Homo sapiens: one gene and its partner. The protein of the gene in region 1 purifies or fractionates together with the protein of each later gene. This does not show direct contact. Each region holds a gene or a part of one and is shown on either strand. Other genes may lie near its edges.

Region 1 (11,885 bases):
TAGATAGATAGATGATAGATACATAGATAATGGGCTGGGCATGGTGGCTCATGCCTGTAATCACTTGAGGCCAGAAGATCAAGACCAGCCTGGCCAACATAGTGAAACCCCATCTCCACTAAAAGTACAAAAAAATTAGCTGGGCCCAGTGGTGTGTGCCTGTAGTCCCAGCTACTTGGGAGGCTGAGGCAGGAGAATCGCTTGAACCTGGGAGGTGGAGGTTGCAGTGAGTCAAGATTGCGCCACTGCCCTCCAGCCTGGGCAACAGAACAAGACTCTGTCTAAAAAAAAAAAATAGCTAGATAACGGATGGATGGATGGATGGATGGATGGATGAATCGATGGACAGATGGATGGATGGATGGATGGATAATGGAGAGACAGATACAGTAAATTTGGAGAGTCTAGGTAAAATGTATATGTATATGAGCCTGTTCCATTCTTGTCATTTTTCCGTAAGTTTGAAAATATTTCCAAATAGAAGGTTAACATTTTTAAAAATATTTTCACTGGTAAACAGCCCCTGCCCTCAGCCACCCACTTCTTCTATTGCCCGCTCCCAGCACCCTAAGTTCCTGTTTCCTACTCTGGGACACCCCCACTCCAGGTCGCCATGTTCATGTCACTAAAGAGTTAATGCTAGGTGCAGCAGGAGGCCCTAGACCCTGCCCAGGGGACCTCTGCACTTTAGCACATTGTTAAATATTTTGAATGTTCCCTTTGGCTGTGACGCATGAAGGTAAATTTTGCCTCTGCTGGTTTCGCAAGCTCCCAGCAATCCTTGACTGCAGAATGACTCAGACCCTCGTAAGGGGAGCCTCCCCACCCTCTGCTCTGACATCGCCTTGTCACTCCCTCATCAGCTGACAAAGCTCCGTTCCTGCCATGAGCTCACTCAGTCCTTTCCTCTGGTTGACTTCAGAAAGGCAGAAAAAATACGCTGATTCCAACGTCCTGTGGTTTCCGGGATCTTCAGACGCAAACGGCTTGCAAAGTTTGCCACTGCAGCACCTCTCCAAAGACTGGAAATAACTGACATGTCCAGCAAGAGGGGACTGGCTAAATTAATGATGGTACATCCAGGCAACAGAATACTACACAGCTATCAAAAAGAATGGAAAAGTTGGCCAGGTGCAGTGGCTCATGCCTGTAATCCTAGCACTTTGGGAGGCTGAAGCAGGGGGATTGCTTGAGCCCAGGAGTTCAAGATCAGCCTGGGTAACCTAGCAAGACCCTATCCCTACAAAAAGGAAAAAAACAGACAAAAAGAATGTTTATATAATGATGTGGAAAGACCTCCAAGATCTAGGGTGAGGCCAGGCGTGGTGGCTCACGCCTGTAATCCCAGCACTTTGGGAGGCCAAGGAAGGTGGATCACTTGAAGTCAGGAGTTCAAGCCCAGACTGGCCAACATAGTGAAACCCCGTCTCTACTAAAAATACAAAAATTAGCTGGGTGTGATGGCAGGCACCTGTAATTCCAGCTACTCAGTAGACTGAGGCAGGAAAAACACTTGAACCCAGGAGGTGGAGGTTGTAGTGAGCCGAGATCGTGCCACTGCACTCCAGCCTGGGCAACATAGCGAGACTCCATCTCTAAAAAATAAAATAGGCTGGACACGGTGGTTCACGCCTGTAATTCCAGCAATTTGGGAGGCCCAGGCGGGTGGATCACCTGAGGTCAGCAGTTCAAGACCAGCCTGACCAACATGGTGAAACCCTGTCTCTACTAAAAATACAAAAATTAGCCAGGAGTGGTGGCGTGCGCCTGTAATCCCAGCTATCTGGGAGGCTGAGGCAGAAGAATCACTGGAACCCGGGAGGTGGAGGCTACAGTGAGCCGAGATCGCTTCACTATACTCCAGCCTGGGCAACAAGAGCAAAACTCCATCTCAAAAATAAAATAAATAAAGTAAAATAAAATAAAATAGTGAAAAATAAACGTAGGTAGCTGCATTGTGGCACGTGGCCCACATATTGGGCAGTGCAGGTCCAGGGCCACTCTGGGGGTTCTAATTGCCCGGCACTATTCCATGTGCTTCCCAGGTGTTGGCTTAGTAATTTCCTAATCACAGTGCATATCTATGTGACAATAGCACAAAGGGCAGGGTACTATTATTCTTCCTAAATTCACATGCTCATTAGAGGAACAACCCTTGTCTGTTGCATGGAGAAAGGGGCAGAGAGCAGAAGCTGGGAGGAAACGGAGATTGGAACTGTCCAGGTGACGTGAGGCATGACGGTGGCTTAGACAAGGGTGCTGGCCGCAAGATGTGAACGATCGGATGAGAACAGGGTGAAGGAGAAGGCGCAGTACCTACAAGAACAGCCATAATCATTGCCAGGCTGTCCTGAGCCTTTCTCGTGTATTATCTCATTGAACCCACAAAGCAACCCTAGGAGACTTACTTGTTGCAACAGCAACACTCATTTTCCAGAAGAGAAAAATGAGGCTACAGAGAAATGAACAGACCTCTCCAAGTCTTCTCGGTTAGCAAGAACAGAGACAGGAGAGAAACTCCTGAGAGCTGAGCCCCAGAGCCCTCTCTCTCTTTTTTTTTTTTATGAGACGGAATCTCGCTCTGTCCCCAGGCTGGAGTGCAGTGGCGCGATCTCAGCTCACTGCAAGCTCCGCCTCCTGGATTCACACCATTTGCTAGCCTCAGCCTCCCGAGTAGCTGGGACTACAGGTGCCCGCCACCATGCCTGGCTAATTTTATTTTTAGTAGAGACAGGGTTTCACCGTGTTAGCCAGGATAGTCTTGATCTCCTGACCTCGTGATCCACCCACCTCAGCCTCCCAAAGTGCTGGGATTACAGGCATGAGCCACCGCGCCCAGCCCAGAGCCCTCTGTTTGAGTGGCTACCAGGCAGGCCTAAAGTGCATTGGGAGTGGGGGGGCATGCATTCTAGGCAGAAAGGAGAGAGGAAGGGCAGGTGGTGCACAGCAGAAACGAAAGGTCAGCATGGCTGGCAGGCGGCCAAGATAGGACTGGAAGGTCTGCAGATGCTGAGTTAAAGAATGTGGCTGGACGCCAGGCGCGGTGGCTCACGCCTATAATCCCAGCACTTTGGGAGGCTGAGGCGGGTGGATCACGAGGTCAGGAGTTCGAGACCAGCCTGGCCAACATGGTGAAATCCCGTCTCTACTAAAATAAAATACAAAAATTAGCCGTGTGTGGTGGCACGCACCTGTGATACCAGCTACTTGGGAGGCCGAGGCAGGAGAATCACCAGAATCCAGGAGGCAGAGGTGCAGTGAGCCAAGACTGCACCACTGCCCTCCAGGCTGGGTGACAGAGCGAGACTCTGTCTCAAAACAAAACAAAACAGACCAAATATTAGAAGCAAACTAAATTTCCATTGAAGGGGATGAAACCTCCTACTAGCATATTACTCAGCTGATAAAAGAAAGAAAGAAGCACCAGGCTGGGCAACATAGCAAGACCCCACCTCTACAAAAAATTTTAAATCTAGCTGGGTGTGGTGGCATGCACCTGTAGTCCCACCTACTCAGGAGGCTGAGGTGGAAGACCTCAGTAGACCCTGTCTAGAAAAAAGAAAAAAAGGAGGAGGAGGAGGAGGCAACTCCCTTGAACTACACGGGAATGAAGTACCTTCCTCAAGGTTAAGGGGAAATTAATGAATGCCTAATACAACGCCTGGTATGCAGTAAGCACTCAATAAATGCTAGTTAATAATACTATATGTTATTCATTTAAAAAAGCCAGATGTAGAGTACTGTACAAAACATACTGCCATTTATAAGGCTGGGAAAGGATAGAAATGTCACCCACATTGAGCGCCAACTGTATACCAGGCACTGCTACAAGAACTTTTCATGCATTCACTCAGTCAATTCTCTCAACTAGCCTATGATGTAGATTCTAGTATTATCTTCACCTTAAAGATAAGGAGAAGGAGGCTGGGTGCGATGGCTCACGCCTGTAATCCCAGCACTTTGGGAGGCCAAGGCGGGAAGATTGCTTGGGGCCAGGAGTTCAAGACCAGCCTGGCCAACACGGTGAAACCCCGTCTCTACTAAAAATACAAAAATTAGCCAGGCATGGTGGCAGGCACCTGTAGTCCCAGCTACCTGGGAGGCTGAGGCAGGAGAATCACTTGAACCCAGGAGGTGGAGGTTACAGTGAGCTGAGATCACACCACTGCACTCTAGCCTGGGCAACAGAGCAAGACACTGTCTCAAAAAACAAAAAGATAAGGAGACAGAAGCACGGAGAGGACAGATCTCCGCAACTATTTCATAGTAGAGACAGAAGCTGAGCTCGGTTTTGGGGTTCCCCGCATCACACTAGTCCTTACTTTGTTCCCTAAGCATCTGTGCTCTCAGGCATCTGTAAACTGTTTCTGGAAGGATCCACCACAAACTGGCATCCCATGGTTGCCCCAGGTAGGGTAGGAGGCAATGAAAAGGAGTCAGAGGGCCAGGTAGGGTGGCTCATACCTGTAATCCCAGCACTTTGGGAGACCAATGTGGGTGGATCACGTGAGGTCAGGAGTTCAAGACCAGCCTGGCCAACATGGTGAAACTCCGTCTCTACTAAAAAGACAAAAAATTAGCCAGGCGTGGTGGCGCATGCCTGTAATCCCACCTAGTCGGGAGGCTGAGGCAGGAGAATTGCTTGAAGCCGCGAGGCAGAGGTTGTGGTGAGCCAAGATCGTGCCATTGCACTCCAGCCTGGGCGACAAGAGTGAAACTCTGTCTCAAAATAAAAGGAAAGAAAAGGAGTCAGAGGCTCTGGGGTAGGCAGGGAGAATGAGTTTTTTTTTTTCTATGTTTGTTTTTTGAGATGGCCCTGTTGCCAGGCTGGAGTGCAGTAGAGCAATCTCGGCTCACTGCAACCTCTGCCTCATGGGTTCAAGCGATTGTCGTGCCTCAGCCTCTCAAGTGCTGGGACTACAGGCGCCCGCTTATATGCCCAGCTAATTTTTGTAGTTTTGGTAGAGACGGAGTTTCACCATGTTGGCCAGGATGGTCTCAATCTCCTGACCTTGTGATCCGCCCGCCTCAGTCTCCCAAAGTGCTGGGATTACACGCATGAGCCACCGCGCCTGGCCGAGAATGAGTTTTTACCAAGTATCATTTGGTACTTTGGAAAATGTTTTGGAAAGAAAAAAAAAAAGAAGAAGAAGAATCAGAGAGTCCCGTTTGCCCAAGTCGGATCTCAAGGGTGGAATGCAGGAATGAAGCAACATCAGACCCCTCCCTGGTCCATCCAAACCATCTTCCGTTTCCTCTTTGACACAGATGAAGCAAGGCAATGCCTGTGTTACAGCAGGTGCTGAATCGCAGCTCTGCTGGCTCAGTGCCCAGGCCTCCAGACGCAGGGATGACAGGGACCCTCATTTAGCCTGGGGTGCATTCCTTCTGACACTCACAGAATCCATGGCATAACCTGCTTCTGCCACCAACCATGGAGGGTCCCCATCCATCTCTGCTCCTGCCTGGGCCTCAGTTTCCCCATCTCTGTCATGCAGAACATCTCAAACGACCAGGCATAATGGCCTCATGCCAGTAATCCCAGAGCTTTGGGAGACCAAGGTGGGAGGATGGCTTGAGGCCAGGAATTTGAGACCAGCCCTGACAACATAGCAAGAACCCATCTCTACAAGAATAAAAATTTTAAAAATTAGCCGGACATAGTGGTGCATGCCTGTGGTCCCAGATACTCAGGAGGCTAAAGAGGGAGGATCACTTGAGCCCAAGAGTTCAAGACTGCAGTGAGCTATGATGGTGCCACTGCACTCCAGCCTGGGCAACAGTGCAAGACCCCAAGTCGAAAAAGAAAAGAACATCTATCTGCAAGAGCATCTGAGTAACTTGACCATTCCTCCAAACTGGTTCTTTCCAGCCTCCCAACATTTTCTCTGCCATTCCCACTGCCTGGAAGGCCTGTTCTAGATTTCTTCACTTGTGGAATTCTTTAAATAAAAAAAAAAATACAGACAGGGTCTCACTATGTTGGCCAGGCTGGTCTTGAACTCCTGGCCTCAAGCAATCCTCCCGCCTTGGCACAATCCCCAATGTGCTGGGATCACAGGTGTGACCCACTGCGCTCGGCTGCTTGTGGAATTCTTAGTCACCTTACTAGACCCAACTCAAGGGTCCCCTCCCCTGGGGAATCTTCTCGGGCCCCAGCCCCACGAGGTTGCTGTTGCTCCCACAATCTTGACAATCTTATTCCCATGGCCACATCCCAGCCCTGGAGTGTGAGAGCCTGGGATGCAGGAGAGAGGGAAGGTGGGAGGTGGAAGACAGGGAGAGAGAAGGAAAGGGAGAGACAGACAGAGTTGACGGCGAGAGTTGGGGAGAGAGAAGGACCCACTGGAGCAAAGATGGGAGGGACCCAGGACAAAGTTTCCTGCTCCCATTCCCCTTCGAGACTCACCATGTTCTGGTCTCCTGGGCTCCCCGAGGATCGAAGGTCCCTCCTGCCCAAGGGCTGTGGTTTTTAAAGCCCCAAGGGAAGATGCAGGGAGGAAATGACCGTCTTTCTCTCTGGGGCTCTCATTGGTCTGCACACTGGGCACTGAGGCCAGAGCTCCCTCTGCGGGGCACACACCCAGGGGACTCTAACCACCTCCTCCCAGGCAGAGAAGGGGGGCCGGCGCTCGGAAAACCGAGGAAGCTCCTGTGCAGGCTCGGCCCCTCTCCTGGCCTTGGTTTCCCTATTTGGGGCCATCTCTTCTCTCTCATTTTTTTTTTTTTTTTTTTGATAGAGTCTTGCTGTGTCGCCCAGGCTGCAGTGGAGTGGTGCAATCTCGGCTCTCTGTAACCTCTGCCTCCTGGGTTCAAGCACTTCTCCTGCCTCAGCCTCCCGAGTAGCTGGGATTACACGTGTGTGTCACCACCCCCGGCTAATTTTTTGTATTTTTAGTAAAGACGGGGTTTCGCCATGTTGGCCAGGCTGGACTCAAACTCCTGAGCTCAGGCAATCACCCACCTCAACCTCCCAAAGTGCTAGAATTACAAGTGTGAGCCACTGCGCCCGGCCTGGAGCCATCTATCTCTTTCCTCCTAAGACGCCAGCCTTCTGGGCAAAAGCTCAGGAATGCAGTTGGCTTAAACCCCTCCCTTGGGATTCAAGAAAGCAGAGACTGTAACCTCCACTCAGCCTCCCGGCCAGGCTGATTTGAGACCCAAAGAGGCTGAGCTAGTCTGCGGAGGTAGCCCAGCATTTAAGTATATTTTACTGTTAAATCTTCCTTCTAGGGCCAGGTGCAATGGCTCACACCTATAATCCCAGCACTTTGGGAGGCTGAGGCAAATGAATCACTTGAGGTCAGGAGTTCAAGACGAGTCTGGCCAACATGGTGAAACCCTGTCTCTACTAAAAATACAAAAATTACCCAGGTGTGGTGGCAGGTGCCTGTAATCCCAGCTACTTGGGAAGCTGAGGCAGGAGAATTGCTTAAACCTGGGAGGCAGAGGTTGCAGTGAGCCAAGATTGCGCCACTGCACTCCAGCCTGGGCAACAAAGCAAGACTCTGTCTCAAAAAAAAAAAACCATCGTCACCAGCCTGGCCAATATGGTGAAACCCCATCTCTACTAAAAATACAAAAATTAGCCAGGCGTGGTGGTGGGTGCCTGTAATCTCAGCTACTCAGAAGGCTGAGGCAGGAGAATTGCTGGAACCCAGGAGGCGGAGGTTGCAGTGAGCAGAGATTGCACCATTGCACTCCAGCCCAGGCTGACAACACCAAGACTCAATCTCAAAAAAAAAAAAAAGAAAAGAAAAAGAAAAGAAAAGAAAAAAATCATCCTTCTAGGGTTATAAAGTTGGCAATAGAAAATGGAGCTACCCTGTCCCCCAACTACACAAGCCACAACCATCTCCATCTATTATTGTTACATTGTAATATATAATGAAATAATTATACAATTCAACATAATGTAGAATCAGTGGAATCCCTGAGCTTGTTTTCCTGTAACGAGATGGTCCTATCTGGGGGTGATGGGATACAGTGACAGATCATCAGGCATTAGATTCTCATAAGGAGCTTGCAACCCAGATCCCTCACATGCGCTGTTCACAACAGGGTTCATGCTCTTTTTTTTTTTTTTTTTTTTTTTGAGATGGAGTCTCACTCTCTCACCCAGGCTAGAGTGCAGTGGCACGATCTCGGCACACTGCAACCTCCGCCTCCCAGGTTCAAGCGATTCTCCTGCCTCAGCCTCCCGAGTAGCTGGGACTACAGGTGCCTACCACTGCACCCGGCTAATTTTTGTATTTTTAGTAGAGACGTGGTTTCACCATCTTGGCCAGGCTGATCTCGAACTCCTGACCTCGTGATCCACCCGCCTCAGCCTCCCAAAATGCTGGGATTACAGGCTTGAGCCACTGCGCCCGGCCTGGGTTCACGCTCTTATGAGAATGTAATTCCGCCCCTGATCTGACAGATCAGGCGGTAATATGAGCGAAGGGGCGTGGCTATAAATACAGATGAAGCTTCACTTACTCACCTGCCACTCACCTCCTGCGATGCTGCATGGTTCCTAGCAGGCCATGGACTGGTACAGGTCTGCAGCCCAGGGCTGGGGGCTAAGATACTTCCTAGAGCCTGGGGCAAGGAAGGAGCCTAGATTACCTTCCCGAGGCTGCTGTAACCAATTAGCACAAACTGCGGGCTTAACACCAGGACCGGGCGCAGTGGCTCATGCCTGCAATCCCAGCACTTTGGGAGGCTGAGGCGGGCAGATCATTGAGGTCAAGAGTTCAAGACCAGCCTGGCCAACATGGCAAAACCCCATCTCTACTAAAAATACATAAATTACCTGGGTGTGGTGGTGCATGCCTGTAGTCCCAGCTACTCGGGAGGCTGAGGCACAAGAATTACTTGAACCCGGGAGGTGGAGGTTGCAGTGAGCCAAGATGGCACCACTGCACTCCAGCCTGGGCGACAAAGCAAGACTCCACCTCAAGGAAAAAAAAAGAAAAAAAAAGCCAGACAATTATTTTGGCATGGTTCTGCAGGCCAGAAGTCCAAAATCAAGATGTCACCACTCCCTCCAGAGGTTCCAGGGGAGAATCTGTTCCTTGCCTCTCCCACCTTCAGGTGGCTCCTGAAATTCCTTGGCTTGTGGTTGCACCACGCCCGTCCCTGCCTCTGTGGTCTCATCACCTCCTCCTCTACCGTATGTCTCAAATTTCTATCTTCCTCATATAAGGACTCTTGTGATTCCACTGAGCCCACCCAGACCCAATCCAGGATAATCGCTCCCCCATCTAAAGATCTTTAACTTCATCCTATCTGCAAAGTCCCTTTTGCCATGGAAGGTCACCTGTTCACAGGTTCAGGGGATTAAGATGTGGACATCATTGGGGATCATGATTCTATCTGCAACAGGGTCTGAGAAGCTAGAGAGTAAGTGTGTCCAGTGGTGGAGAGAAGCCTTGAATGCCGAGCTAAGGAGCCTGGACATGGCCTTTCCTTCGAAATAGATGCATGACCTGTCAACCTCTCACCACCTCGGCTCTGTTACCCTGATCCAAATCACTATCACCTTCTGCTTGGACCATTACAGCAGCCTCCTCTCTGGGATCTTCACTGCCCCCCCTCCGTAGTCTCATCTCCACCAGCAACCAGAGGGAGCCTATTAAAATCTAAGTCAGATCAAAGCACTCCTCTGCTCAGAATAGGGGGTTGCCTGATTTAGCACACACACCTACACAAACAAAAACACATTACAGACTGCCCAGTTAACTTTAAATTTCAGGGTTGGGCCTGGTGCTTCATACCTGTAATCCCAGGGCATGGGGACACCGAGGAAAGATCGCTTGAGGCCAGGAGTTTGAGAGCAGCCTGGGCAACATAGTGAGATCCCATCTCAACAAAATAAATTAAAAATTAGCTGGGCATGGTGGCACGTGCCTGTGGTCCCAGCTACCTGGGAGGCTGAGGCAGGAGGATCACTTCAGCCCAGGAGATCAAGACTGCAGTGAGTTAAGATCACAAAAATATTTTTTTTTTCACATTTTACCTGAGAATCTTGTATTTTATCTGGTAACCACAGCTCAGAGCCCTCCCTTGGAGCCTACGGCACAATGAGTGTGATTGTTATGATGATTACAGAAACACACTCAATTTTTTTTTCCCATGTCCTTCTGCGACTCTACAAAACACCACCCACAACTTTCTCCCACAGTATTTTTCTACAGCAAACTTCAATTTTTAAAAATCTGGTTTTCGGCCGGGTGCGGTCCTCATGCCTGTAATCCCAGCACTTTGGGAAGCCGAGGCAGGCAGATCACCAGTTCAAGAGATTGAGACTATCCTGGCTAACATGGTGAAACCCCGTCTCTACTAAAAATACAAAAATTAGCTGGGCGTGGTGGCGGGCACTTGTAGTCCCAGCTACTCAGGAGGCTGAGGCAGGAGAATTGCTTGAACACGGGAGGCAGAGGTTGCAGTGAGCCGAGATCGCGCCACTGCACTCCAGCCTGGGGACAGAGCAACATTCTGCCTCAAAAAAAAAAAAAAAAAAATCTGGTTTTCTTTTAATTGCAAAGGAAATGCATGCTCATTGTAAATATTTAAACAATCCAGAAATACACTCCTCCCCACTCTAAAAATAGAAAAAAGAAAAAGACACCAATGAAAAGTCCCATTCCTGTCACGCTTCTGAATTCAGCTGGGAATTCACCTAGACTTTTACAAAGGTGGAGTTTGTGTTTGGCCATGGACACGCGGGTACACGATGTTCAGCAAGTTTTAGTTCCGCTAATTGAAGCCATGTGCGCAGTCTGCGTTACTCACCCAGGATTTCCAAGGTCGATTTGTGGCGATTTGGAGCATTATAGGAATGCCGTGTTGTTCTAGCCCTGACCTCCAGGGGGCGCAGGAGCGGGGAGGTTCAGGAAGCCAGGTCACAGGAACTTGACTTTTAGGATTTTGGATGGAAGTTGCCTCCTCAGCCGTAAATCATGGGTTCTTAACATTTTTAGGCCCGGGACCCTTGATAAAGGTGTCCTTGATAAAACACCCCCTCAGAAGAAAAAGAATTTTTTTAACTTTTTATTTCGATGGAATGTCAAATGAAAAAAGTTGCAAGAATAGTAAAAGCGGCCGGGTGCGTTGGCTCCCGCCTGTAATCCCAGCACTTTGGGAAGCCGAGGAGGGAAGATCACTTGAGGTAAAGAGTTCGAGACCAGGCTGACCAACATTGTGAAACCCCGTCTTTAATAAAAATACAAAAAAGTAGCTGGGAATGGTGGCAGGCACCTGTAGTCCCAGCTACTTGGGAGGCTGAGGCAGGAGAATCACTTGAACTCAGGAGGAAGAGGTTGCAGTGAACCGAGATCATACCACTGCACTCCAGCCTGGGCGACAAAGTGAGACTCTGCCTCAAAAAAAAAAAAAAAGAAAGAAAGAAAAAGAAAGCAATTGGGGCCAGAAGCAATGGCTCATGCCTGTAATCCTAGCATTTTGGGAGGCCATGGTGGGAAGATCACTGGAGTCCAGGAGTTCCAGACCAGCCTAAGTAACATAGTGAAACCCCCATCTCTACAAAACACAAAAAATTATCCAGGTGTGGTGGAGCACACCTATAGTCCTAGCTACTTAGGAGGCAGAGGCAGGAGGATCACCTGAGCCCAGGAGGTCGAGGCTGCAGTGACCTATGATTGTGCCACTGCACTGCAACCTGGACAAAAGAGCAAGACCCTGTCTCGAAAAAAAAAAAAAAAAAAAGACAGAGGCCGGGCACGGTGGCTGACGCCTGTAATCCCAGCACTTTGGGAGGCTAAGGCGGGTGGATCACCTGAAAGTCAGGAGTTCAAGACCAGCCTGGCCAACATGGTGAAACCCCATCTCTACTAAGAATACAAAAAATTAGCCAGGTGTGGTGGTGGGCACCTGTAATC
Region 2 (11,120 bases), on another chromosome or scaffold:
ATGCGTTGAGCATTGATTCAAGCCTGGCCTGGGCACTAGGCATGGTTTTAGATATTAGGGACATATTCTGTTTTCCTTGCCTTAAGATACCAGTCTAGTAGGAGCCACTAAGGCCCCTTTTTGAGCCTGGACTTCGCATTCAAACATACCCTGCTTCTAATCAAGTCATCTATTGGCAGTGACCTTGGGCAAATCATAGTCTCTCCAAGCATTACTTTTCTAATTGAAACAAGAACCTCTCTCTATACCCCAGATTTATTTTGAGGATTATGAGTTAATTCATAGCTAAAATGCTTAGCACCTAACAGCACATAACCCACACATACTTTTCAATTGCGTATTACTAAAAAGAAGGAATGATTTCCTAGAGGAGGTGCTTCTTCTGGCCAAGGGCTGATTCAGAGCCTTAATTAACTAAATAGATCAAGCATATCTAACTGGTCACCGGAAGTGGTCCATGAGGCTGCAGCAATGGGAAGGTGTCAGAGCAGGGGTTGGGAAAAAGACATAGAGAGAAACGTGCATGTCCGTAGTGGAGGGGAGCTCTTAGGATGTCTACAGATTTCCAAGACAATAATTGAAATGAACAAAGGCAAGGGATGACCAATAAGAGCTTCATTTCTTTCCTTTATCACCTTTCCCTTGTTCTTCAGCTCCAGCTGTGCCCACAGACACCACAGGGAAGCCTCTGAACACAGGGGTTTGAACCAGGGCCTCTCTAAGTCTTTTCCAACTCTGATACCCTGAAGTTCTCAGAAACTTCCATAAATTTTGGCTGAAGAAGCCATAGCAAACTTGTCAGATGGTTTCTTACCTTTAACTCAGCCATTTTCTCTCTCCTCTATGTGTGGTGACTTCAGGAAACCCAGGCCCAGAGGATATAAAGCCACAATGCTTCTTTCTCCTTCAAACCACTCTTTGGATATTCCGGTTCCCACTGCTTCACTGCGCTTCACTGGTCAGTGCGTCACTCAAACTAGCTGAAAGAATTGTCTAACTCATACACAGGGACAAAGTCCAGCAAGCTTATTTAACCGGTTACACAATTGCCTTTGGTTTTTACAGTTTGTTCCTAAGTGTTTCCAGAGGCTTGGTTCCTCTTCACCTGAGGTAGAGATTGACCAATTATTTATTCCAGTTAAAAGTAGGCTTATTTCAAAAGGCAGAGAATTTGAAGCTATCGGGGAAAGGAACTGTGGCAGATAGTGCCTGCTGTGTGTGGTGGAGGATTCTCTGCTCAGTCCTGACTCAGGCTAGGAAGGAACAGGGCAGTGCTGAGTCTCCTGGAGAGCAGTGAGAAAACCCCCAGGCATTTACCAGCTGCAGATGTGTACACTGGGGTAAGATGTTTACACACAGCCACCTGAAGACAGGGACCAGGACCAGAACCAGTTTTCTGCAGGTGCCTCCCAGGAATGAGCTCAGGTTCTTGGGTGAACCATTCAGAGCCTGAGATATTTCACTTAGAGCAAACTGATATGTTTCCTACTGCTCCTTTTAATTTCTTAAAGTACGTTTAGTTTTCTTATAAATTCTTTAAGAGTTTTGTTTCCTAATGCCTCTATACTTCTAAAACAGACCAAGGGATTATTCTCCAGCCACCTCCTCTATGACTCCCTTGTTCTTCATCTTGGCCGCTCTCCTTGGTCATTGGCAGGTAGCAGCTTCATGACTAGTGGTGTTCAGAAAGGAGAAAACATATATTGAGTTTCTGCTTTTGTCAGATTTTTCCATATCTAACTTCACAAAAACAATCTTGTAAATTAGGCATTATCACAACTCAAATGCCAACAGATGAGGGAGGAAGTGTAAGTGAATAAAGTAGGCTAGCTGATTTTTCAAGATAAGATGAAGCTCCAATTTTTAACCATTGGTAATTAGAGTGAGAGAGACAGAGAAACCACCCTGTGGTAGATGGCAAAAAATGCTCCAATTCCTCCTATCCTTGTATGTGTGCCCCTTTGAATGTGACTTTGCTGTTCCTCCCATCAAGAGGTAGGGTCTTTTTCTTTGGCTAGTAGCAAACATGACACAGAGTTTGAAACATGCCTGTGCCTTAGGACAGGGCCCATTCTTGCAGCCTGAGACCACAGTGCAGAGAAGCTGGGCTGGCCTCCAGAGGTCCAGGCAACAGCCCTGCAAGCCCCACAGGAACTGCCAGACATGTGAATGAGGCAGTCTGGCTGCCAGGTGACTGCAGAACATGTGTGATCCCAGGCAAGACCAGCAGAAGAACCACCAGTTAAATCTGGCCCGAACTGCTGAGCCACAGAATTGGGAACAAATAGAATGGTGTATTTCACACTACTAAATTTTGGGGTGGTTTGTTAAGCAGTGATAAATAACTGATATAATCATGCAGGTTGAAAAACATGTGCATATTTGAAGTGGCCACAGGCTGCTAGTTTGAGACCCTCTGCTTTAGATAAATGGGCTTAAACAACCTCCAAGGGTCCCCAGGCTCCAGCATACTGCAGTAGCAGCAGAATTATTGCCTGTGTATGAGGTGCTAGCACAGACTGGGCCAGACCAAAGGGGACATGTTGATAGGAAACATGCTGGTAGCAAACCATGTGGACTGATGCCTACGGACCGGGCAGCTGATAGGAAACCTCAGCATATGTCAGCATAGACAGATGGCATTGTGGCATTATATAAACTATTCTGGAATTCATATGCAAACCTAGGAGGAAGGTAGGTGGAGGCCCTAGCTTTATTGAGGCTAAGTTTTCACTATTCCTATAACATGCAGACTCTGAAACTGAATTCGAAGAAAATATCTCCTGTGTATCTAAGTTTATGAGTACCTTGGGCCTTCAATCTCTATTGATCTTGGAAGTTAGCAGTTGGTCATTAGATAAACAAATGGGAGCTAATAAAAGACAAAGGGAAATCTTTACTGCCTTATTTTTCAACAAACTTTCTATGTTACTTCCATTGAACCAGTTGTGAAGGCAGATTTAAGAAGTGTTTCAGTTCTTTCCTAAGGTATGAGAGACTTCTGAAGGGGTAAGAAAGTGTTAACAGTTCCTTGACTGGATTAAAATTACTTTGAGGGGCTTGAAAATATTTAAAGTTGAATACATCTTTCACTAAACTTTAGGGATTCCTTCTAAAAGGAGAGAATACACACAGGGGATATTAAAATATTATTTTATTATTTAATTTTTTTTTTGAGACAGGTTCTCTGTCATCCAGGCTGGAGTGCAGTGGCACAAAAATGGCTCACTGAAGCCTCAACCTCCTGGGCTAAAGCGATCCTCCCATCTCAGCCTCCTGAGTAGCTGGGACTACAGGCACACACCACCACACCCGGCTACTTTAAAAATTTTTTAGTAGAGATGAGGTCTCGTCATGTTGCCCAGGCTGAACTTGAACTCCTAGGCTCAAGCAATCCTCCCACTTCAGCCTCCCAAAGTGCTGGGATTACAGACGTGAACTCCTGCACCTGACTTAATGTTTTTTTTTAGAGACAGAGTCTTGCTGTGTCATCCAAGCTGGAGTGCAGTGGCATCATCACAGCTCACTGCAGCCTTTAACTCCCAGGCATAAGCCATCCTCTGGCCTCAGCCTCCCAAAGTATTGGAATTACAGGCATAAGCCATCATGTCCTGCTGGGATTGGAGAATAAATAACTTACACAGCTACAGATAAGTTCTGATTCTATGTCTAATGGCTTTCCATTTTAATTAATGTAATTATACATTCATTTATTTAACAATTTTTGAAAACCATCACAACATAGTGTAAGTGCTCTGACAGGAAAGAGCCCAGGGATCTAGGGGAAGCACTAGTGGGCACGTAGCCCAGACGAGCAGAGCCAGGGAGGGCTTCCCAGAGAAGACTATGTCTGAGCCAAGTCCCATAGAGTAAGAGTTGGATAGAAAGTGGAAAACATTACATCCAGGAATTGCTACAAGGTAATGTGAAGCAGGGTGTGACAGGTCTACAGAGTAATCACTCCAAAACGGAGTTAGGCATCAGAGGACTCCAGGACAGATGTCTCCGAGAAAAAGATGGAACGGAGAGATTACCTGATATACTTGATGGTACTGAGCGAGGTTTTACACCTTGGTTGGAGTTTAGGGGTTCCATTCTTTGTCATTAGTTATTGATGACCTCGGTAAAGCTTAGTGATTAGCCAGCTGAGAAAACACAGTACTAGAGAGGGGGCTGTGTGTAAGATGGCAAGGCACTGGTTAGAAATAAATATATTTGGATTAAAAACAGAACCCAGGGGAAAAACAGTGGCAGTAATAAAAATGATAGCAATACATGAAAGACAAATACTTGTTTTGCCAACAGAAGACATGACAATCATCTCATGTTTAATTTGGCATATGTAGCTTTGAGTGGGGAGGAGTGGATCAGTTCATTAAGGTGAGATCAGGTTGAGGCAGTCAAAGATGCGCTTTGATGAATTCTGCTATAATGGCACTCATAAAGTACAGAGTTCACAATCTATATTCCCTACTTTTTGATGAGTTTATTTGTCTTTCTTAAAGGCTAGATCCTGACTTATCTGCATGAGAAAAATCTGGCTTGTCTGTTAAAAATACAAAATCCTGGCCTTATCCTATACATATAGAAAGGGGAGAGTAAGGGAAGAGAGAGGAAATCGTGGAATCTGCATTTTCAGCAAGCACTTCAGGGGATTCTTACACACTTCAGAGTTTGAAAGCCCTCCATGTGAGTCCTTAATGGAGGTGCAGATTAATTGTAACTGGATGTCCAATTCCTTTACTATGCTATGGAGCAGCCCCAGCTGACCCTAACATCAGATATTTTGTGTAGGCAAACATGTTGTGAAATATTTGAGACACAGGGTTAGACTTCCTGCGACCCTTCCTCTCCCACCACAGTGATTTAGCTCAGTCTTGGGACTGCGGAGAAATGAATTTCTAATTTCCTTCTCCTCCTTTCCCCAAAACAGACTCCTCCTTTGAATTTTAACATATATTAAACCAATGCAGACACCCTGTTAGACCTTTAAACTTCTTAAAATATGATGTCACCTGTGCTTTAAAAAATTCAATTAAGCCACCATCTAGTAACCCATACAAGGTCCTACCTATGGTGGGTGCTACTGCAAACTATTGAAATGAGGACTCAGAAACTCTGATTACAAGGAGCAATTAGGAGCTCTTCACCTCAGTCTGATGTCCCTGCACATCATTTCCATGAAGTCCATGTCAGAATGAACAGAAAAACAAGTGTCAGGGCACCTGGATTATATCATGAATGCCTCAAGTTTGAGGAATTCTAAGAACCCGAGCTAAAGCTAATATGGATCAACTCTTTTGGGAATAGCTTTTCTTAGAGCACTGTAGCGGAGAAGAGCTTTCTTTCTTCACCCATCACTAGGTTCACAAATGAGGCACCTATAACGAAAGACAGATTATTGAGAAAAGCACACACATTTATTTACTGTAAGTTTTACATGACAGGAATCTTCAGAAATGAAGACAAAAAAGAAATAGGAAAACTTGTGTATTTTTATGTACAGTCTTATGCAGAAGTATAATCAGAGGACAAAAGGACATAATCTAATGGTAATAAACTGTGGAGAACTTAGCAAGTCCTATTTGTCCAGATTCTTCTTGGTGTCTCTGTATCTGTGAGGATAAAGGGTACCTATGGAATGAAGGTTTTATGATCTACTTCAGGGAACAGTCACTTAGGGTTTATGGCCTGCTTCAGGGGAGAAGGGGTAAGGGGAAGGTATGAGAAACCTTGCTTCTGCAGTTTTCTCAAATAACAGGGTGCAATATTTTGGGGTTATGTGTCCTGAATCCCATCAACGTTAAGATGGAGAGACCAGCCCAAATCTTTAGTTGGATTCCAGCTAAGTCTTATACACCTAAGGGACAGAGGAGTAGTCATATATATGCCTTCATATCTGGTCACCTTCACAATGAGTCAGAAAATTGGTCAGACACCGAAATCACAACAGAAAAAAAAAATCTTTATTTCTACCAACTTGTCCCATCAAGAGAGTAAGATATACATATGTAAAGAGATGGAGTCCCACTCTGTCATCAGGCTGCTGGAAGGCAGTGGTGCAATCATGAATCACTGCAGCCTCAAACTCCCGAGCTCAAGTGATCCTCCTGCCTCAGTCTCCTAGAGTGCTGGGATTATAGGCGTGAGCCAGCACCTGGCCAATTATACTTTTAAAAAAATATTTTGACATTTATACTTGTTTATTATCTAAAAGCATTTTTATGAATAGTTCTCAAGAAGTCCTAGCAAAAATTGTGCTTCATTCTTTTTTGAATAACTCTAGCTAATAACATTCATTTGCGCAAAAAGCCTTATTATGCTGCTGCTAATAATTGCAACAAATTTACCTTAGATTATTAAAAACTATTTTTTCTTAGAAAACTATAATTCAAGGAATCAAGCTTGGCTGCAGAAAGTAATGGAGTTGAGGAATACTGTTAATTTTTCCAGATTGACCCTGGAGTCATCAGCAATAGTTTACTTTTATTATTTATTTATATATTTATATATTTATTTATTTATTTTCTTTTAGTTGGAGTCTCACTCTGTCACCTAGGCTGGAGTGCAGTGACACGATCTTGACTCACTGCAACCTCCACCTCCCAGGTTCAAGTGATTCTCCTGCCTCAGCCTCCCAAGTAGCTGGGATTACAGGCGCGTGCCACCAGGCCTGGCTAATTTTTGTATTTTTAGTAGAGACAGGGTTTCCCTATGTTGGCCAGGCTGGTCTCAAACTCCTGATATCAAGTGATCGACCCGCCTCCCAAAGTGTTGGGATTAAAGGTGTGAGCCACCGCGCCTGGCCTATTTTTATTTTTTAAATAAGATAGAAAATAAAAAAATCAGGATGAATTTTTTTAAAATTAAAAGAAAGAGGAAGAAAGAAGGAAGGAAGATTTATTTCTTGAAGGAGAAATACAAAGAGCTTAATTGGGTTAGGTCTCTGGGTAGCATTTGGTTTCTACTTCCCAACTGTACAGCCTATGCAACAACATACTTGTGACCAATTCTACATACAGATCATGATTTGCATAGCTTTCCTTTGTGTCAAAAAGAAACCAGGGCTATGTCCTTTCAAAGAGGAAGTAAAGAAAGGCTGGAGAACAGTCTAGCTGATGAAAGCTGCTTTAAAAATCCTTTTCCAAATTCCCAAGACTGCCTTTCTAAAAGGACTCTCTAACATTCTTATTTTAATATCCTCTTGCAGCATACCTTGATTTCCAAGATACTTCTGAAACCTAATTAAAATGGAACAGAAAGTGAATTTGGTGTTTTCCACCTATTTTTTAAATGAGAAATGAAAACTGTATATTTATTATTGTTATTTAAAAGTATGGAGCAAAATCAGGAGTGCAGAGACCTGCAGCAGAGCCAGAGAGAGAATACGGGTGATAGAGTGTTGAATAAATTGTTTTTAGAAATCAAATTCATATACTCAGGAAGAACTGGGGCAGAGAAGATTAAGCAAGCAAAAAGATAGGTTAAAAAAAGTAATGATGAACAATTACGGACACACACACACACACACACCATCCCCAAAAAGCTTTGGAGTGATTATGAAATCCAAGAATCCTAGTTCATAATTCATGTAAATGTGTTGCTGTGGAACTTATTTTTACTTCTCTCCATAAATACATTGTTGACACAGAATAATATTCTTAGTTTTCTGATTATAGCTAAGGGACATTTCAGGAGTTGACTTTTCCTTAAAAAAACAAATAGAGAGGAGGCTGTAAATGTCTCTCACTGCCCTTGTGCAGGTCTTAGATTTTACCCTACCTATTTCCAAACAGAAAACCTAGACTGTATATAGCAGCAACCTTAAGAGTGAGGGAGCTGTCAATTTTTCACATCATTTTACCAGAATTCTTTTTTTCTGGTATTGCTGTTCTCTATGTATTATTAATTTGTATTTATATTTAACTCTGGCTATTAGTCCGCCTCTTCCAGTCACTGAGCCATTTGCAAAGGAGAGAAGAGGGAGACAAGGGTTGCTATTATTAGGCATTCCTGTGTGTGACAATGGTGGAGACAATTAAATAACACCATTTTGCATCTTTGAAAATGACAGAGATTGTTTGGGGTAGACAACTCAGGGCTGGTTAACAAGACCGTTCCCCTCAAGAAGGTAAAACAATGGAGATACGTTTTTGAAGTACTTAATTAAGCTTTCAGCAATGAGTGTGGGAAAATTACAGACCCATAAAAACCCTCCAGTTCTAGGCAAGAGTAAATTTTCTCTGCAGTACACTGTCATTGCTCATTTACTGCATCATTTTGACAACATCTCATATTTACACAAGGCTTTTACATAATCTATACACAGGGACAGAAAGGTAAGGAACACAGAGAACAGGGACAAAGTTTGGACCTCCCGTATTGTCACTTCCTTTCATTTTTCCATTAAAGGGTAAGGCTGAAGGGTAGCATTTTAAGATGATTTTGTTAAAAGGCTGTGATGGTAATAATTGAACACAGCAAGATGAGCTGTGAAAAACTGCCACTGCTTGCTCACTCTTCCAAAGGATGAGTGTAATTCAGTCATAATGAAGGCTCTTTAATGTTCCTGCCCCAAATCTTTTCCGATCAGGAAAGCCTGGAATCTGTAGGCAAGAAAGATAATTGCATTAAGTCTCAAGCAATAAAAGTTCAAATACTAATAGTAATTTTTCCCTTCTTTTCCATTTCTGTATGTCAGCCTGCTGTTTCTTAAAAAAACAACTTTCTGAGGTTTTACTCAGAAAACCACAGATTAAATAATAAAAATAAATCTTACCCAAATGGAAAACATTTCCCAACAAATTGGTGATAGTGTCATCTAAATCAGAAAGAATGAAGGTAAATCTCATAATACCTACTAGACTTTTATAGAAATTATTTGTATTGTGACAGACCCTGAACGTATACTCTTGGAGTCCCAAGCAAATTATTTTCTTCTTCTATTTTATAATGTAATCTTATTCCTAGATTATATTTGTTTCCTAGATCCTTATTTTCCCTTTGTTCTGATTTTCTCCTTTTGTATTTAACAGGATAGAAGGAAATCAGTTGCTTGTGCCTATAAAGGGCTTTCCCCAACTTTTTAAAACTACTTCTGAACTTAAATTTGGAAATCACCTATCAAAATTTAAGAATCTATTTTATCAAGAAAAGAGATACCAACCTGATTACCTTCTCTTAAAAAGTATCTCTTCTCTATGACCTGTGAAAAACAAAGATTTTAAAGGCTTAGCACACATACCTGCAAAAAGTGGCTAACTGCAACGACCACTAATGGTACTAAAAGGAATATATCCAAACTAAGAATCTTTTCCATAGCAGTAGACATGTAGTACAGTCAGCTAAAAATCTGGTGTTAATGAGATCAGAATTGTGAGAGTATTTCCATAAAAGCCTGCCTCATTCCAAAACGCATTAATGATAGATCAAAAAATAAATGAATAACAAAAACTAAATAATGATAGAATGATATAAGATCCTATGCAATTCTTAGAGTATGACAGCAAATCTGACTCTAAGTTTCCTAGCAGTCAGTCCCAAAAGGTACTAAACAGCATCCATAAAATAAAAAAAGCACTTGCCTGCTACAATAGTCTTGTCTATTTCTTAAAGAGGGGACTGTTTAACATAGCAAACCACCACATCCCTATAGTAAGTGGTGACAAATTCTATATGTCCTCAATATAGACAGATGACACAACATCAAAAGCAGTCTAATGACTGTTGTAAATTGTCTACTTTTTTTTAACTAACTGCACCCTTACTTCAGTAGTTTCAGAATTACCTGCATTTGATAAGTAGAAAAAACATGTTCAAGCAGCAGATGTATCTGCACAAATCCATCACCATTATTGAAAAGAAACCCTCAAAATATATGTCCAAATGTAATAAGTTTAAGAGCACCATGTTTTCATTTTTTCCCAAAACTGCTGTAAACCCTAAAGAGCACCATGTTTCCAGATGATGAAAAACATTTTCAAGAATAATAAATTCTGTTCTGACACTTGAGAAACTGCAATGGTTACAGAGGAAGTATTATAAATGGTCTCTGATTTAGGATGGCTTGACTACGATTTTTTGACTTTATGGTGGTGTGAAAGCAACATGCATTCAGTAGAAACTGTACTTTGAGTGCCCATACAATGGGCACTTTTTTCACTTTCAGTATAGTATTCAATAAATTACATGAGCCATTCACAACTTTTTAATAAAATAGGCTTGTGTTAGATGATTCTGCCTAACTGTAGGCTAACATAAGTGTTCTGAGCATGTTTAAGGAAGGCTAGGCTAAGCTGCGATGCTTGGTAAGTTGGGTGTAATAAATGTATTTTTGACTAACAATGTTTCCAATTTACAAGGGGTTTACTGAGATATAACCCTATCGCAAGTTGAGGAATAGCTGTATTTTCTTTACATAGACCTGCTGTGATAAGAAAAGTTAATCGGATAATAATACAGATCAGCTGGAGATGAACTCTAAGACATTCAAATCTGAAATTATGCAGCTAAGAGTTCCTCTGAATGAGAACAGACCAGCTTGCTCTCTCTGGTGCCACAGCCATTCATCCAGATTCAACACCAAGACCATTCATCCAGATCCAAGACCAAGACCAGCTTGCTCTCTCTGGTGCGACAGCCATTCATCCAGATTCTTGCTGTCTTGGAGACTATAGCTGGATTATTTTTAGCCACAAGACACCAGGGCAAAGTTGCATTCACTTACCCCAGAGGTAGAAAAGTTGGTTTATCATTAGTGTACATCTTAAAACAATCCCACAAAAACCAAGAAGGAGACTGATTCCCTTTCCTCTCTATGGCAGGACAGGAAAATCTGATTATTCTGGAGCGTGAGGAATTACTACTAGTTGAAAGAGGCTGGAGAAGGAGTTAGACTTCCTTTTGGAGAAGAAATCTTTTTTTTTTGTTTGTTTCAGATGGAGTCCTGCTCTGTCACCCAGGCTGGAGTGCAGTGGTGCGATCTCGGCTCACTGCAAGCTCCACCTCCTGGGTTCACGCCATTCTCCTGCCTCAGCCTCCTGAGTAGCTGGGACTACAGGCGCCCGCCACCACACTCAGCTAATTTTTTGTATTTTTACTAGAGATGGGGTTTCACCATG

Evidence for each region.
Region 2: the proteins of C5AR1 (region 1) and RABL3 purify together in Homo sapiens (co-immunoprecipitation; 2 studies listed by BioGRID and IntAct, with this or other methods). This does not show direct contact.

Annotation. Positions count from the first base shown.
Region 1 is NC_000019.10:47,304,423-47,316,307, reverse strand, and holds the start of C5AR1 (C5a anaphylatoxin chemotactic receptor 1), read right to left. Parts: upstream 6,448-11,885; 5' UTR 6,413-6,447; coding exon 6,410-6,412; intron 1-6,409.
Region 2 is NC_000003.12:120,681,283-120,692,402, forward strand, and holds the end of RABL3 (rab-like protein 3), read right to left. Parts: intron 9,206-11,120; coding exon 9,167-9,205; intron 8,822-9,166; coding exon of another isoform or gene 8,780-8,821; intron 8,607-8,779; coding exon 8,541-8,606; 3' UTR 3,656-8,540; downstream 1-3,655. Other genes in the region: HGD (homogentisate 1,2-dioxygenase), read right to left, coding at 815-829. UniProt on the Homo sapiens protein: Required for KRAS signaling regulation and modulation of cell proliferation. Regulator of KRAS prenylation, and probably prenylation of other small GTPases. Required for lymphocyte development and function. Not required for myeloid cell development.